Regions from separate parts of the Homo sapiens genome. Here region 2 is linked to region 1. Evidence: fine-mapped expression QTL. A gene starts in region 1. The other region holds a variant in brackets. All regions are shown on one strand. Distances are between the middles of the regions.

Region 1 (8,363 bases):
AGACTAACACAACAAGCAAAATCCAATCTGCTGCTTATTCCAGGAAATCCCTGCTTCTGGAAGATAAGGCTGTAAACCCCCTAAAACTGGGTCAACACTAACAGTTTATTCTTCAAAACTCATTACGACCTTCCTTCACATGTTTACCAATCTAAATCTATTATATCCTAAACTGTGCAATCCCAGCTAGTTGCCTAACTTGTCAGATCCATCTTAATATTCTCCAGCCCAGGCCCTGAATCTCTAAAAATATCTTCCCCTGACCTTCCCCTTCCTAAGACACTACTAAGACTATCAAGGCGGTATTCTCCCTAACTGTAACAGGTCTCATAAACTTAGCTTTGCTTCAGCAAGAGGTTTTTCTGGTGGTTTTTTGCACAGTCAATAGTCAACACTGACCTCTTCTCGCCTATGTTTTTCTTCTTTGGGGATGTTATCTGCTGGTGCTATGTCCCCAACGATGCATTCTGCCATATCATGAACCAGGGCTAGGCGTACACATCTGATCAGGCAAGAAATGTCGAATAATTACACAGAATTATATTTACTACAAGTTCCTTCTCTATACTCTTCCAAAGTTATATAATATATATATTTTTTCTCCACCCTCACAGAGTATTTTAATGTAGTATTTTCTAAAGTAGTTATATTCTGCCAGCCTACAACAGTTCTGATCAAAACTGTTAGTTCATATTCAATAAAATACATGTGAGTATAGGGGAAATTGTTAGCATTAATTTTTTTTCTTAAATGGTTTATCTCTGAAATCTCACTTTAAAAGGCTAATAGGCCAGGTGCGGTGGCTCACGCCTGTCATACCAGCACTTTGGGAGGCCGAGGTGGCGGATCACCTGAGGTCAGGAGTTCGAGACCAGCCTAGCAACATGGTGAAACCCCATCTCTACTAAAAATACAAAAATTAGCTGGGTGTGGTGGCACACACCTGTAATCCCAGCTACTCAGGAGGCTCAGGCAGGAGAATCATTTGAATCTGGGAGGTGGAGGTTGTAGTTGGCTGACACTGCACCACTGCACTCCAGCCTGGGCGACAGAGTGAGACTGTCTCAACAAAAAAAAACGAGATTACATTTGACAACTTTCATGTTCCTGACACATGTGAATCATTCAATAAGTGGTTATGATTATTAGCGGTTAAGGAATAGTGGTTGTGATAATTCATCATCAAAACAGGAAGTCAAGTAATGAGATAAATGCCCCATAGGGCCAGTATGTTTTAGGCTCCCCACACTACCAAGGCAGTACAAGGCCCAACAGTGTCCTCTGAGATTTCCCTGCCTCTAGTCTCTTTCTGGTCCAGTTCAAATCCCAGACTACTCCAAACTGCATCTCTATTGGACTTCATTTTCACCTTGTACCATTTGCCAAAAACCTCCTCAGTTCCACTTCATCTGCTGAGTAACAGAGGACTCCTCAGGCTTCCCAAATGAACTCTTTGCTGCAGTCAAGTTGATTAATTTCTCATTTGCAAAATACTCCTTTACTTTCCTACACTCAGGGCTTTGGTTTATCTGCCCTTCTCTCTGCATGCAGTGACTTCTCCTACCTCTCTGGCTACGTTAACCCTTTTGAGCTCAACTCAGATTGCACCTCCTCCATTAAGATCAACCAAGAACAGGTGATCTCCCCTGCTCTTACAATACTTAACATTTTCGACCATAACTTACATTTCACTTCTTACAGAAGCTATTTTGGGCCTGCGTAATTCACTTGGGATTTATTTACTCTCTTACATGCTAGTAAACTTTTGTTCTGTGCTCAAAAAGCATTTTAACACTTGTCGATTAAATGAAGGGGGAGAAGATACCTCTTTCTCAGCTATGTCTTGCACACACAACTCCAAAAGGAAGCCTCACGAATGGATACTACTATCCATAAAAGGCACTAGGAAAGAGCACACAGTGTACTAATACAATGCTAGAATTTTAGACATAACACACTCACCTTCAAGGCCCCAATATCACACTTAAGTTTCCCCTGATACCCTAGGCAGGCTCTATCACTTGCCAACAGAAACCCCAGATTGCAGTTTACAACAACTGAGGCAACATAACCCACATCCTAAATTTGTATGGTTTGCTTCAAATAATTTTTCTTGACCTATAAACTAACCTACAAGGATTTGACATGGGTCTCAGTAGTAAAAACGGGTGCACACCCATAGACCAGAATCTCTCACGAGCATCAAAGTCCAGCTCAGCTTACCGGTCTTTGTTAAGACGGTCATCTTTGATCACCATAGCCATAACTGCCATCCGGTACATGTGATCTGAAACGCTCTCCGGCCTCTGGACATTTCTGTATACCCAGCCAGTTCGTGGGACTCTCTGATAAATATGAAGAAGAAAAAGAAGTTTTAAAGAACAAATATTAACTATCTGCTATGCTCTTCAAGAGATGTCCAGGATATAACACACAGAAGCCGGGTCATAATTTCAGAACCTATTACAAAATGTTTTGCTAAACTAGCTAAAATGATAGACATCTGGAATCAAATGAACTAGAGAGCTCAGAGAATGAAAGGGGTAGAAGACAGAGAGAGATAAGTCACAAAGTCCATTCGTCAAATTATTCTGTTACTGATGTATAATTATGGAACATATGCAAGTCCTTTAAACAAAAACAAAACTGCATTTTTCCGAACAAGAGTTGCGGCTTTTTGCCTTCAAATAATCCTACACAAGCAGAAAACACTGTATTGAAGGGTCTGAACGTGAACGAGTGATAGGCTTCCAAATTCTGAGGCACAAGGGATAAGGGCACTTCTAATTGCTTGATGCTACCAGCCGTGACTCTTCCTTTTATTCACATCATAACTTCATCTTGTGAAACTGCATTTCTTCCTCAGAATTCTACATCTCTAAGGAATGTTATAAATAGTAGTCAGAGTGGCATGAAACGGATAATTTACTTTGAACTTGGGAGAGAGACGGGGAAGACGCACATGATGAAACTCGTGTGTATTACATTAAATCCCGTTTGGGGGGTGGCCGGGAGAAAAGTCTTGTTTCTGGAAGTAACTGTGAGACAGACATAAAAAGCTCCACTTAAAATCTGAGGAGCCGACAGATTCTGTTCTTCCCACCCGTGCTCAGAAGCAGCCGCGCTTTACACACACACACACACACACACGAGTTCTGGGGTCGTGAGCACACACACACACACACACACACACGAGTTCTGGGGTCGTGAGCCCCGGAAAAGCTCAGTGCAGGCAGGGCCAGGCCGGCTGCTCTCCGGGAACTGGCGCGGCTGCAGTGCGGACCTCGCGGCGCCAGGCTCTAGGCTCAGACTCCGGGCCGCCCCAGCTGGCCAGCCTGTCCCGCCGGCTGCTTCCTCCGTCCACCGTCGGCAACGCGCGGCCGCATCCGCAGGACTGGGGCCTTTCCGGAATTCGGCGTGGCGGACGCGGCGCAGGAAGGGCAAAGACCGCCGGCCGAGCGGGGAGGCCGGAAGCTCCGCCGCCCCACAGTCCCGCCCGCTCGGCCGCGGCCTCCCGGCCTGGTGCCCGCTCACCTTGAGCTGCCCTACCAGCCGCAGGAACTGCAGTAGGGACCGAGCCCCGTGGCCCGAGAAGGTCGCAGAGGAGACCGAAGCCATGCGGCCACCGACCCCGGCTGGGCGGAGCAGGCCGCGGCGAAGCTCCTCCCCGTCCTCCTCCTCCTCCCCTTCCCCTTGTCTTTCTTCCCCCTCCTCTTACTCTTCTATCTCTTTCTCCTCCCCCTCTTCTTCTTCCTTCTGCCCCTCTTCCTGCTCCCCCTCTTCCTCCTCCCCTTCCAACTCCTCCTCCTCCTCCCCCACTTCCGCTTTCTCCTCTTCCTCTTCCTCCTGCCCCTCTTCCTCTCTCCCCCTCCTCTTCCTCCTCCTCCTGTTCTTATTCCTCCTCCCCCTCCTCCTCCTGTTCTTATTCCTCCTCCCCCTCCTCCATATTCTCACGGTTTTCTCAGGACCTTCTGTCCAGCCTTCGCCTTCTTGGCCTTGGTGTCCGCTGCTTGGGCATTGCTCCGTCAGTGGCAGACACCTTGCTTGGCACATACTTGACACTCAGTACTCTTTATGAAAAATAAAGCTCTCCTTTCTAAATTTATGAACCTCGTTATTCTTCAGTTGACAGTGTAAAACCATGAAACTGGATGAGGTCACCTGGCAAGAGGGTGTGAATGAAGAAGAAAAGACACCCAAGACCTGAACCCCAACATTTAGGCTTTGTGAGATCAAGAGGGAACAGCCAGTGAGGTAGGAAGAGGATTAGTAGGTAGGATAGTTGTGTCCTGGAAGCCATGTACAAAAATATTTCAAGAAGGAAGGAATATGGTCAACCAAGTCAATGTGAGGACCAAGGTTTGACTTCCAGACTTAGTAAATTCAATATTATTGGTTACCCTGACAAAAGCAGTTTTCAGTGTAGTGGGCCAAGCAGAACCTAGTGAGATAATTCCGAAGAGAATAGGAGCAAGTATTACAGCACATTGGAGATGGGGTTGGGGTGCTGTTAACTAGTGGAGAGATTGTTTCAAAACAGGAGATATTATGTATGTTTACTGATGAAGGGGATCTAGTAGAAAGGGAAACATTGATTATGTAAGAGACAAAGAAGAGAAATATTTGAATGTCGGCCTTGAGTAAGGAAAAATATTCCCATCTGGTGTACAAGATAAAAGATGGGCTTTAGATAGGAATATGGAGAATTCATTCAAATATTGGAGGAGGACAGAGTATAGGGTGACTAATCAGTCGCACATGTGGTCATGGGAGGTTGTAGAAGTTCTCTTCTGATTGCTTCTATTTTCTCACCAAATTAGGAAGCAAAGTATAGGCTGGGATGTTATAATAACAAACAACCTCCTTATTTCCTGTATCTCAGCAGTTTAACACATCAAAGGTTTATTTCTCTCTCATGCTAAGTGTCTATTGTAGATCAGCTAGAGGATGCTGCTTGCTCTAACCTTACTCAGGGAGCTAGGAGGCTTTCTTTGCTCTCTTTTGCCAAAATTGGAAAAAAGAAAAGTGGCACTCTGGCTCTTAAAGCCTGTCTCTGGAAGTGATATATGACCTTTTGTCTACGTATCATTGGTGAAATAAGTAACACTGCCACGTCTAACTTCAAAGGGGGCCTGTGGAGTGCAATCTTGCTAGGCCTCTGGGAAGAAAGGAGGCTAGAATGTTTGTGAATAGAGGAGGAGGCATTTGAGGTTTAAGGAGTGATATAGTTTGGCTCTGTGACCCCACCCAAATATCATGTCAAACTGTAATCCTCAAAGTTGGAGGAGGGGCCTGGTGGGAGGTGATTGGATCATGGTGGCAGACTTCCCCCTTGCAGTTCTTGTGATAGTGAGTGAGTTCTCATGGGATCTGGTTAATGGTGTGTAGCACTTCCCCCCTTTGCTCTCTTTCTCTTCTGCTCTGCCAGGTGAAGACGATGCCTGCTTCCCCTTCACCTTCTACCATGATTGTGAGTTTCTGCAGCCATGCTTCCTGTACAGCCAATGAAATACCTTTTCTTTATAAATTACCTAGTCTTAAGTAGTTCTTTATAGCAATGCAAGAATGGACTAATACAAGGAGAAAGAAGGCATGAAATAATTTTTTTGAAGACTGGTTCAGCAACAAGATTAAATATGACTAAGAACCAAATAAATGCCAAGGACATTGGGGCTTGTATTAAACGTGGTTAGGATAATGACCTGGAAGCCATTTTTATGATGGTAAGTGGTGCTAAATAAAGGAAATATCAAGCCAGGTGTGGTTTGTGCCTTTATCCCAGCTACTTGGGAGGCTTAGATGGGAGGATCACTTGAGCCCAGAAGTTTGAAGCTGCAGTGAGTTATGATCACTCCAGCTTGGGAAACAGAACCTGTCTCTAAAAAATTAAAAATTAAAAAATGGAGGGATCAAGGTTTAAAAAGAAGGATCAAGAATCAGAGGCAAAGTCAGACAGTCCACTGGAGGAACACGAAAGCAAATGACCAAAAAGATCCAGGAGAATAAGGAAGATGAGGATGTTGGATTTGCTGAAGGATGTAGTAAGGGGCTTTCAAGAGATAGGTGCCATGAAGCAATGGGGCTGCAAGCTAGCTGGTGAATGTGCAGTGTAACCCTTACGGTTCCTTCTGAGCAGCCTTGTCTTCTTTTGCCAACAATGCATTGATTTCCTTTGAGCTCCTCCTGATTCATGCAGGCTTGATTTAGTTTCCATGGGTATTTCTGTCTGTATTTGCAACTTTCTTTGCAAAATACACGTGAGTTATCTTAACTTTGTGTAGTGAGCTGTAAAGAATTTCTCCAGTTTCCTAAGTGATCAGAAGTTGGAAGACGTCAAGTTGCTGAAAAATTATGAATTGAGTATAAATAGTTTTTGAGGGACACTATTTAAAGATGATATGGATTTTTGGAGGGGACATTACTATCTAAAAGTAAATTGTTACTGTGAAAACTCAAAATATAGTGCCGACTTCTTGCTTTTGTAAACTGAAGATGTTCATCAGGGTTCGTAACAAGGTTTATTCCTACTATATCATTAAAGACCAAGATGTTTGACTCTAGAAGGTGGAATAGTAGCCTCTTAAGGATATCTAATTTTTCCAGAGCTTGCAAATATTTCTATATTACATGGCAAAGGAGAATGGTAGCAAATGGAATTAACTTTGCTAATCAGCTGAACTTTAAATAGGGAGATTATCCTGGATTATCCCAATGAGTGAGATGTAATCTCAAGGGTTCTTAAAGATGGAAAAGGGAAGGAGAAGAGTGAATGCCAAAGGGATGTGATGGGAGAAAGACTCAACTGGCCATTGCTGGCTTTGAAGATAGAAGGGGCCATGAGCCAAGGAATGCAGGCAGACTCTAAAAGCTGAAAAAGACAGGAAAATTAGATTCTCCCCTAGAGCTTCCAGGAGGAAATGCAGTGTGGCCCGCCCCTCGATTTTAGCTTAATGCAGCCCATTTTGACCTCCAGAACTGTAAGATAATAAGTTTGTGCTAAGTTTATGGTAATTTGTTACAATAGTAATAGGAAACTAATACAGTGGATAATCATGTTGGATGTCCTGAATCCCTTTTTACCAAATACCCTTCTTCCCCTTTTCTGCTGAAGAAGGGAAATTGGAAAGCCTGTTTCTATTTCACAAAACCAAAGACATATTTCAATGATGTGTTGGTCAAGCATCTTCCTCTAGCATTAGGTTAGAGGAAATAGGAATCAATTTATTTCCACAGAAGGTGGTTCCATTTTAAAGCAGTGAGCAAGGAAGGAGATTTGGCACAATGTACTTGAGTCAATTGGAAGGAAAGATGTTTGAAATTAGAAGGCTCTCGTTAGAGGGACTCTTTACTTGGATCCAATATACATTTCAGGGGAACCTGTGGATACCCTGAAATTGTCTACAACTTGTGTTGCTTATGAAATTTTTTTTGTTTAGAAGATTCTTAAAGTGGTCTGTGGCCAGAACAGGGGCAAAATCTGCCACTATTGAGAAATCTGCTATGTATCTGTGATGTAGTACACAAAACTCTGGACTCAGAGCGATAATAATCAAAGGTACAGCTAATTGAGCCTCTGTTAGTGTGAAGCATTGTTACATCTCTCATCTTGTTTTATTCTCTCATTATCACTCCAAGGTATTAATGATTCCACATTCCAGATGGGGAAACTGAGGTGCACCAAAGCTAAAGAATTGGCCTCAGTTTTTAGAGCCAGGAAACGGTGCAAGCACTGAAACTCTAGCCTGTCTCCTTCCAAATCTTTCTTTTTGTGGCACTTGGTGCTCCCCAGTGGCTATTAGTACCCAATTCTTAATGTTGTGGAAATTCAATGAGATTACATGCCTGGAATGGATTTTGTAAACTTATTTATATGAAGAATTGGGCAAGAAAATAGGTAGTGATAGATTGATCTGAGAAATTTTGTCAGAAAATATTCATAAGTCCATTCTGGGAGATTACTAAAGAGATTTGTTCCTTTAAGGTATTCAAGGAAGAAGTGCCGCATCGGCCTGCTGCATATTCCTTGATAAAAAAGGTTTACATCAGTTGTTCTCAATCCAGGTTGTTTTACTCAAAAGGGACATTTGGCAATATTGGAATACATTTTTAGTTGTCGCAGAAAAGAGGCAGAGGAGGAGAGGAGCAAATGAGAGGCAGAGGCCAGGGCTGCTGTTAAAATTCTTGCAGAGCACATGACAACCTTCTGCAACAAACAGTTATCCAGCACAAAACATCAATAATGCTACGATTGGGAGACTACACTCTATATGTTTAAAAATGAGATGCCTAAACTTACTTTCCTTACATCATCAATAAATTATAATCCAGAGAAAGTTGATGCTATGTTTATGAGTTATATAGTA
Region 2 (8,677 bases), 29 kb before region 1:
GTGGGATGAGGGAGCAGACAGTATCCCTGTTCTGCCTCTGGGATGGAAAAGCTGGCCTCCATCATGACTCCCCTCCCTCCTTCAGTGGTTGCAAGTAAGCAGGTGGCTAGTGGCAGGGCAAGGTTACCACACCCTGATTGAGTGGCTTTGGGCAGCCATATGGACTGTGTGAAATGACATTGGTGAAATAACTGAAACTGTGAGTAAATGGCAGTCATATGCTGATTTGGTGCAAGTCATCTGGGCGATGGTTATATGGCAGGCTATGTTTGACCTGAATACCCGGGGGCCAGGTGATGAATGTTTACCTCTGCACCCCCGAGCACCTTTGGCTTCCTAGCTGCTGTCCTCACCCTGTAGGTAGGGCACCGCATACATGAAGTGACCACTGCTATAGCAGCTCTCGGGGAAGCAGAAGGCCATCGGTGGGACTGAGGGGTCCACACCATAAAGAAGAGGAAGGTGCCCTGCCCACAGGGGGCTCCCGCATGGGCAAAAAGGGGGCCCCAATGAGTGACACACTCACAGATGTGGGTAGATTTGATTTTGTCCAGGGTTGACTGAGAGAAAATCAATAAACTGCCCAATGAAGTATTCTTAACTTTGTGGAGACACTTGTCTCCAGAGAAGCAATTCTGGAAAATACCAAGGGGAAGAAGGACATTGCTGCGTGACCCATTCCCGCCCAGGTGCTCCAACTCAAGGACTACTTGCTGCAGCCAGGCTGAAATGTAGAGCCTTTTCTGTTTGATTAGGGAACTGGCCAATGTGCCCAGCTTGGGGGGACACCAGATGACCAGTGGCCACATGTAGAATTAGCAATTCACTGGTCCCCCACTAACGTACAGCGGGTGTCAGTGCTGGTAGATATTGGCACAGATTGTAGCCTTGTGTATGAGAATCAGATAAGTTTCTGGGCAAGGCTGTTACATTTATGTTTATGGAGGCTGGTTACTGAAAGTGAAACCTGTGTCTCTGTACCTCGGCATTGGCCACTTGGCTCCCTGTTTATATACTGTGTATGTCTCCCCCATACCTGAATACATCCTGGTGGTGGACATTTTACATGGCCTGGCGTTACAAACTACGGCCAGGGAATTCAGACTCCTAGTGCATCTGGTGAAGCTGGTGCTGCAAGGACATAGGCATCACAAGCCTCAGGTCCTGTCACAACCCCAACTGGTTACTTCCACCCATCAATACCATTTGCTGGGTGGGCATATGAAGATAACTGAGACAATTTAAAAGCTGGAGGAGGTGCAGATAGTGTGTGGCATCCACAGCTCCTACAATTCTCCAGTGTGGCCAGTTAGAAAGCTTGATGGAACTAGGCGGATGACGGTAAACTATCAGGAACTGAATAAAGTAACACCCGCTTTGAGTGCAGCTGTACCGTCAATCATGGATTTGATGGACTGCTTGACAATGGAACTGGGACAGTACCACTATGTGGTGGACTTGGTCAATGCATTTTTCTCCATCGACATTGCTCCAAGAGCCAGGAACAGTTTGCCTTCACGTGACAAGGGCAACAATGGACTTTTACAATGTGGCCGCAGCGCTATGTGCATAGCCCCACCATATGTCATGGTCTTGTTGTCATGGATTTAGCCACTTGGCAATGTGCAGAAGGGGTCCACCTATTCCATTATATTGATGATATGTTAACCTCTGATTCTCTTGTAGATTTAGATGTGGCGGTGCCTCTCTTGCAGCAACATTTGGCAGCATGCAGTTGGGCCATCAATGAATCCAAGGTCCAAGGGTCTGGATTATCTGCCAAATTATTGGAAGTTTCCTGTCTAGGTAAGATGATGGCCATACCAGAGGCTATTATTGACAAAATTCAGGCATAGCCCTGGCCCACCACGGTGAAGCAGCTACAAACTTTTGTGGGCTTCCTGGGATACTGGGGGGCATTTCTGCCCCATTTAGCTCAAATGACAAAACTGTTGCACGGTTAACAAAGAAGAGAGCTACCTGGAATTGGGATATGGCTGAGACCGCTTTCCTGGCAGCCAAGTGGGCTATTCAGCAGGCACAAGCCCTATGGGTAGTTGGCCAGGGGCACCTGTTTGAGCTGGATGTGCATGTGAGCACAGATGGTTTCAGTTGGGGCCTGTGGCAGCATACAGAGTGCCTGAGAACACTAGTAGGCTTTTGGTCTTAACTGTGGAAAGGAGCTGAGCTCCAACAGTCCTTGATAGAGAAACAGCTAGCAGCTGTATATGCAGCATTTCAGTCTTGTGAAAGTGTGACAGGATGGGCTACAGTCATCATGTGGATGGCTTACCCAATAGTGGGATGGATGTGTTCATGGATAATGCCCCCCTGGACTGGGATGGCACAGACATCTACTTTGGCAAAGTGGGGCACCTACTTGGAGCAGCAAAGTTTGCTGAGTACAAGACCCTTGGCAGCAGAATTGCAAGAGGTCTTGGGACCTATAGTCCTAATGCAAGAGAAGGCTATAGGGCCTGGGGCACCCCTAGACCCCAAGCCATCACCGTTTAAGGAAGGGTACCCCCCATTCCTGATGGGGCATGGTACACAGATGGGTCTAGCCAAGGATCTAATGCTGCCTGGACCGCTGTTGCAGTCCAACCTAGTACAGACACCATATGGTTTGAAACCAGGTGTGGGCAAAGTAGCCAATGGGCTGAACTTACAGCAGTATAGATGGTGATCACTAAGGAGCAGATATCTATGGTGATTTGTACCGATAGCTGGGCAGCCTACCGAGGCTTAACCTTGTGGTTAACTACTTGGAAAATACAAAATTGGCTAGTCAGCCACTGACCTATGTCATGGAGCCAAGTGATGTGGCAAGACCTCTGGGAAATGGATCATCAGAAAGATGTAATTATTTATCATGTGTCAGGCCATATGCCTTTGGCCACCTTTGGCAATGATGAGGCAGATGTCTTGGCCAAGGTCCAATGGTTAGTCGGCACCAACACAAGATGTGGCCTTCTGGCTACACCAGAAACTGGGACATGCCAGGGGCAAACTGATGTAACAGGGCAATAAGTGTTGGGGTCTGTCCCTGCCCATGCAAGGTATTTGGGAGGCTCGTCAGAAATGCCCAGTATGTGCTTGGTCATACCCTAAATGGAGGCAGCTGCCCACTTTTACACAAGTGACAACAGGGCGAGTGATCTTGACCAGGTGGTAAGTAGACTACATCGGTCCGCTGCCAAAATTGCAAGGGTATACACATGTGCTAACAGCTGTGGACATGGCCACAAGCCTGTTGTACATCTACCCTTGCAGGGTGGCCAACCAACAGCACATCCTCCGGGTCCTGCAACACTTATGTGCCCTGTATGGTTGCCCTCTGGCCATAGAGAGTGATAGAGCACCCATTTCACTGGACAACAGGTACAACAATGTGCACAACAAATGGACATAAAGTGGGGATTCCATGTGCCATACAACCCACAAGCTGTGGGTATGATTGAGCAATATAAAGGGCTCTTGAAGAATGGG[T/A]TACACTTGCATGTCACACCCGTCTTTGCAGTGCTGGAGTTCCAAGCTGGACCTGGTGGTTCAAACCTTGAATGAACAGCCATGGAAAGACCGCCCAGCCCTGGTGGAGGCTTTATTACACTGGGCCACCACCCCTATTCAGTTGCAGATACACACTAAGGATGACCTCCTCCGACCAGGTATGGGGACGAACGGTAACCTTTTGTTGCTTGCCCCAATGCCCCTGAAGGGAGGGGAACAGAAAACCTGGCTCTGGCCATGGACCCTCCAGGCTCCCCACTGCTGGTGGTTGGCCGTTGTAGCTCCCTGTGGGGAAGACCTACAGTATGACTTGCATGTCACTCCTTGGGCATTCAATACATGTCACCCTTGGTTGATTGTTCTTAGGGCAACAGCCAGGGAAGAAACGCTCCTCTGGGGGACATAAGTACTGTCTGTGTGGCCTATTATGAGCTTCCCCTTGACTTTGGCATAGATACCGGACCCATAGGAACCATGGGGAGCTGAGAAGGTGTGGTACCATCGCCCAGGGCAGAAGCTCTTGGCAGCTGCATTGTTATCCATGGATGAAAAGTTAGCCTGTATTTTGCCTGAGGGACGTCACTTACCTCTGTTAGTAGCTGTGCCTGCTCTGTCATTTTGGCCATAGGTTAACATGCTCCAACTGCATTGTAAACTGCGCCCACACCTGTGCTGAGGTGATCAATGTTTCCAACTTTCGGGTCTGCACTGCCCTTCCAGCAGCAGCTGCAGATGACTTGCCTTGGCATATACATTCAGTGTCTACAGAGAACTGGACATGGCTGGAGACTTGGGGTCCCGTGGTTGACATCTGGAATGCAACGCAGCAAGCTTTGGACAAAGGACGCTGCAAGATCCATGGTGCTCCCATCATGTGGCTGGCCCATAGCATTTATGATGGCTGGGGCTGGCTAGCGGGGGAACATGTAGTACCCCCAGCCCAGGTGTCGCAGAGCATAGAGCAACACTGGGGTAACACCACTGTGGGATAGGTACCCATCACAGCCTGTGTAAACATAACACATGTCACCATACTGAAGGTATGCTGGAACAAGCAGCCCCCAAGTTTGGGCCCCAAGGGACTTTGTGCCCCCTGGGAGTTTATGGGTCTGTGGGCACACAGGGTGGCCTTACCTACCAGTGAACTGGACGGAATGTTGGAACTGGGGGTGGCCACTGTTCTCTCCACATTGCCCAGACACTGCATAACTGGAAGGCGCTACACTCTCATTTTTTGTGAGTGCGACGAGCTCCCCAGTGGTTCTACCCCTTGACAGTGACTATCCCTGCGGCGGGTGTCACAACTGTAGAAGCACAAGTTACTGCTCTTGCAGAGCACACCACTCGGGCTCTGAATTACACCCAAGTGGCCCTCCTCCTGTTAATGGATGAGGCTGGTCAGATGAGAAAGGTGGTATTGCAAAACTGAATGGCCTTAGACATAGTAACCTGCTGCACAAGGAGGCACCTGTGCCCTTTTAGGAACACAATGTTGTACCTTTATCCCTGACAATTGGCAGAACATAACAGCAGCCCTGCAAGAGGTCTCATGGGAGATTAAGGTGGTGGAGAGCCTTACTGACAACCCCCTGCAGAGATGGTGGGCATCTCTGGGCTGTGGCCTACGCTGGGCCCTTACAGTCCTAAGTAGCATAGCTGGGATCCTGGTAATGAGCTGTTGCTCTCTGTAGTGTTGTGGGTTATGGATTCAGGGCTCCACCCTATGGGCACGTATCCCTACCTGAAAGACTCCTCTCAGCCTAGGGGATGGAGTGTAAGGGAAATGGCTGCATTTTAGTCAGGAGTAGGCTGAGGCAGCCTTCTGGCACAGCATGACTCAGTGGGTTTGGAACGCAGGCACACAACTCTACACATTATGTAACCATGCCACGTGAGGCACATTAGGTGACCATTCACATGAGCCTGTGCTTGGCTGGGATCCATTATTGTCTCTAAAAGGTTTAACTACCCTGCTGATGCTGTACATATGGCTCGCGCCTAGAGAGAGAATAACGCCATGTCAAAACTGCCTACGATTCCTCAAGTTTTTCCAGCTACCTGCCACCAGCCCACCAACTCCCTTTGGACCTCAGTTTGGGCTAGAATCTGACAAACAGTAACAAATAATTCTTTTTTCTTGAGTTCAAACCATGAATAATTATTTACTCTGCATTGTAATTATAGGGTTGTCATTCAGAAGACAAAGTCTAGGCAAATGGCAGGTATCTTCTAAGGACTAACATTTTTAAGTAATAATGCTCATTTATAGACATTGCTGGTAGGCTCAGGAGCTGTTATTTTGTTGATCTTCATTTTGTTATTTTCTTATCATCAAATGTTTTATTTATAACACTATTATATTTTTTTCTTTCTTTCTTTAAAAGATGTATTTCCTCAGGAAGGAAGGTTTAGGACTAACTGAAAACTCCCATTTCGTAGGTAGATGATGAACTGAGATAATGGTTAAGTGACTAGTTATAAAGTCTAACCCAGTAGAAGTTTCCAAAGTCTCTCTGTGAATTGTTTTGTTAGCTATTTATGAAAATTATGGTAGACAAAACATTGAAAATAAAACTGCAGGGCCACAGAACACCTTCTGGTTATAAATACTTGAACTTTATCTGGGGTTATTTTGTGTGTATGTTTTCATGCCAAGGGAAAAACTCCACAATCCTAATAGATGGAGTTGTTTTCCTACTAACCATATATCCAGTAATGGACTTTACCCTCTTTCTTCTTTTTGATACAGAGCAATTACACATACATATGTGTGTTGCTTCTGAAAAGATCATGCACCTTGCTTCCTGCAGATTGGGTATCCATGGATACCGCAAAGAGTTTCCAAAGAAACACTGCCTAGAATTTTCACCATGCCAGCCTCGAAGGCCTTCAAATGGAAAGTGACATTTGAATTAAAGGGACAAGCATCATTGCTCCACACCAAAACACTGGGCAGGTTTGCAGAAATCGTATTCTTTTTTGCACTATTCAATGTAAAGGCAGACAGGGTGGATTATTTATCCTATAAAAGGGAAAAGAGAGGAAGAAATCGGGTTGATATATTCCCTACCTGAGGCTCAATGACCCCAGTTCCTATTTATATTTCTCACCTGATGATACATGCTTTTACAATAAAGGTCTCAAGATTTATAAGTCAGACAGGGAAAAATATACAAAGGAATACAAGTTGCATTTTTATATGCCCCGGTTTATATCTCTAAATGACAAAAAGTATTGGGAAGAGGGGCAGAGCCTATTAGTAGGTTTACAAGCCTATGATTAGAAGTCTGAAGCAGTCTGCAGTGAAATTCAAAATCTGGCTCAAGAGAGTAAATCTGAATAAGGCAGCAATTTCATCTGGGGAGAGAATACATCACTAGTACATTTTCTTTTCTGGATTCTTATCACTAAATCAGCTGAAGAATCTGTTCTTAAAAGCAATCATAATGAAATTTTCTATTATTCAATGAACCTAGCCTTCGGGGATATCGGTAATTAAGTCAGAATAAGATGATTTTAAATCTCCAATAAATATTCTAATATTTTAGGTGTTTAATATTTATTTATTTAGTTCATAAACAGGCACTGCCACCTCCAGTGTTCATCCATGGCACTTTCATGACCGCTTCCTGTTCTGTGGCTTCTTTTAGTGCCCAAGTTGTATCACATTTCTTGCTGAAGTTCAGACAATTGAAAACAAACAGACTCACATCTAGGGAAATCAACAGACCAACAATGGCAAAACACAATACAATGAAATGGAAAAATAATGTTTGTTACAGGAGTGCAGCAATTTAGAGAGTGTCTCAGGAGTGTGGCTCACTGGCAGCTGCAGCTATGTTAGTGCTTCTTTCTGCCTCAAGTTCAGAAACAAGCTGGACTATCTCAGGGTGATTGAATTTTCCTGCAAAGCAAAAGAACAGGGAAAAATACATTCCCATATTGACAAGAGAGTATATTCATTTCCCCAGCTTGATCCCAGGGTTCACTGGGGGCTCTAGTCTACGATCTGACCCACACTTCATTCCAAAGCAGAAAGAGATTCCAGGTCCTGGGAAGGGGCTGAAGGGGACCACTTGGCATTTACGCTCTGTCACCCCAGGTGCAACTGAGAATAAGGATGAGACTCAGGCAAGGAATCATCAATTAGGCAGAGGTAGGGGAAACTTCACCAGGCTCCTCAGTGCCTCTACCAGGAACTATGGGAAAACTCAGGTGTGAGAGCCCAGAAAGCTGAAGACAATCTCTGCCCATTCCAAACCTGCAATTAAGTAAGGAGAATGAAGCACCTATATATGAAAAGACAAGGAGGAAGATCAGAGGGGCTAGGCTGGCTCATGATGTAAACAAGGATGCAGGTGTCTCTCTTGTAAACACCTCTACACTTCAATTGGCTGATCTGTGCTGTCATCCCTGCTCCTCAGACCTCCCCAGATTTCTGCTTTGGTAGCAACCAAGCTCTAAGCTATTGTATGTCCATGACGGCTAGCATGGGGGACTGTTCAACCCAACATCTCTTCTCTCACCGTCTTTTCTTGCCTGTGTCTGTTGTTGCTTACTGTTCATTCCACATTAAACTCTATTCCATTTATTTCCTATCCTCAGCCTCTTACCCGAATGTTTCCTTCCCTTTCTTTTTAGATGCTCCACATGAAAGGGTCAGATGAAGGTACCAACAGTGGGTTTCCCTAATATTAACATTAGTCACTACACTGAGTAAGCCAAACTAAAATGGACTCTTGTTGAAAATGGTGTTGAGTACCTGCTGTGGAATCATAGAAGTCTTGCAGTCTCCCAGGTTTGTGTTCAAGGTCTTCATATTCAGATGCTTGAAGAATCATTTCACATTGGTCTAGCTGCTTCACAAATTTGGCTTCTGCACTAGATTGGGTCTCGTACTCCTAAGTAAAGGGACAATTAAAGCAGCATGATTAGCGCTGCATAATAGGGTATCCTGGGAAAATTCTGACTCTGGTACCCGAAATCAGAGTGACAGCTACAAGTACATTCTGTATCGGCCCCATTTCTCTACTGTTTAGAAATCCATCAGAGACACTTCTGTAATTTCACAGCCTAACACCAGGACTCTATACAAGAAAGATGTGCTCTCCATTCTAAGTATTCTACCAGAAGCCATGGAAATCTTGTATGTTCATCTTAGGTACTT

What was found.
Region 2: its variant is fine-mapped to the expression of HDDC2 in whole blood (INTERVAL, PIP 0.99).

What each region holds. Positions count from the first base shown.
Region 1 is chr6:125,298,315-125,306,677 of GRCh38, forward strand. It overlaps HDDC2 (HD domain containing 2), which reads right to left and starts at 3,653. Exons shown (of 6, transcript NM_016063.3): 1 at 3,535-3,653; 2 at 2,224-2,345; 3 at 400-502. The coding sequence starts at 3,618. RefSeq lists a silencer at 3,343-3,682 and a cis regulatory region at 5,176-5,356.
Region 2 is chr6:125,268,830-125,277,506 of GRCh38, forward strand. HDDC2 (HD domain containing 2) reads right to left here. Exons shown (of 6, transcript NM_016063.3): 5 at 8,273-8,411; 6 at 6,521-7,414. The coding sequence ends at 7,317. It overlaps LOC124901395 (a long non-coding RNA gene), which reads left to right. Exons shown (of 2, transcript XR_007059736.1): 2 at 1,687-7,091. Among named protein-coding and RNA genes, the nearest start is that of HDDC2, 29 kb to the right of the region's middle. The variant T/A (reference allele first, on the strand shown) is at 3,490.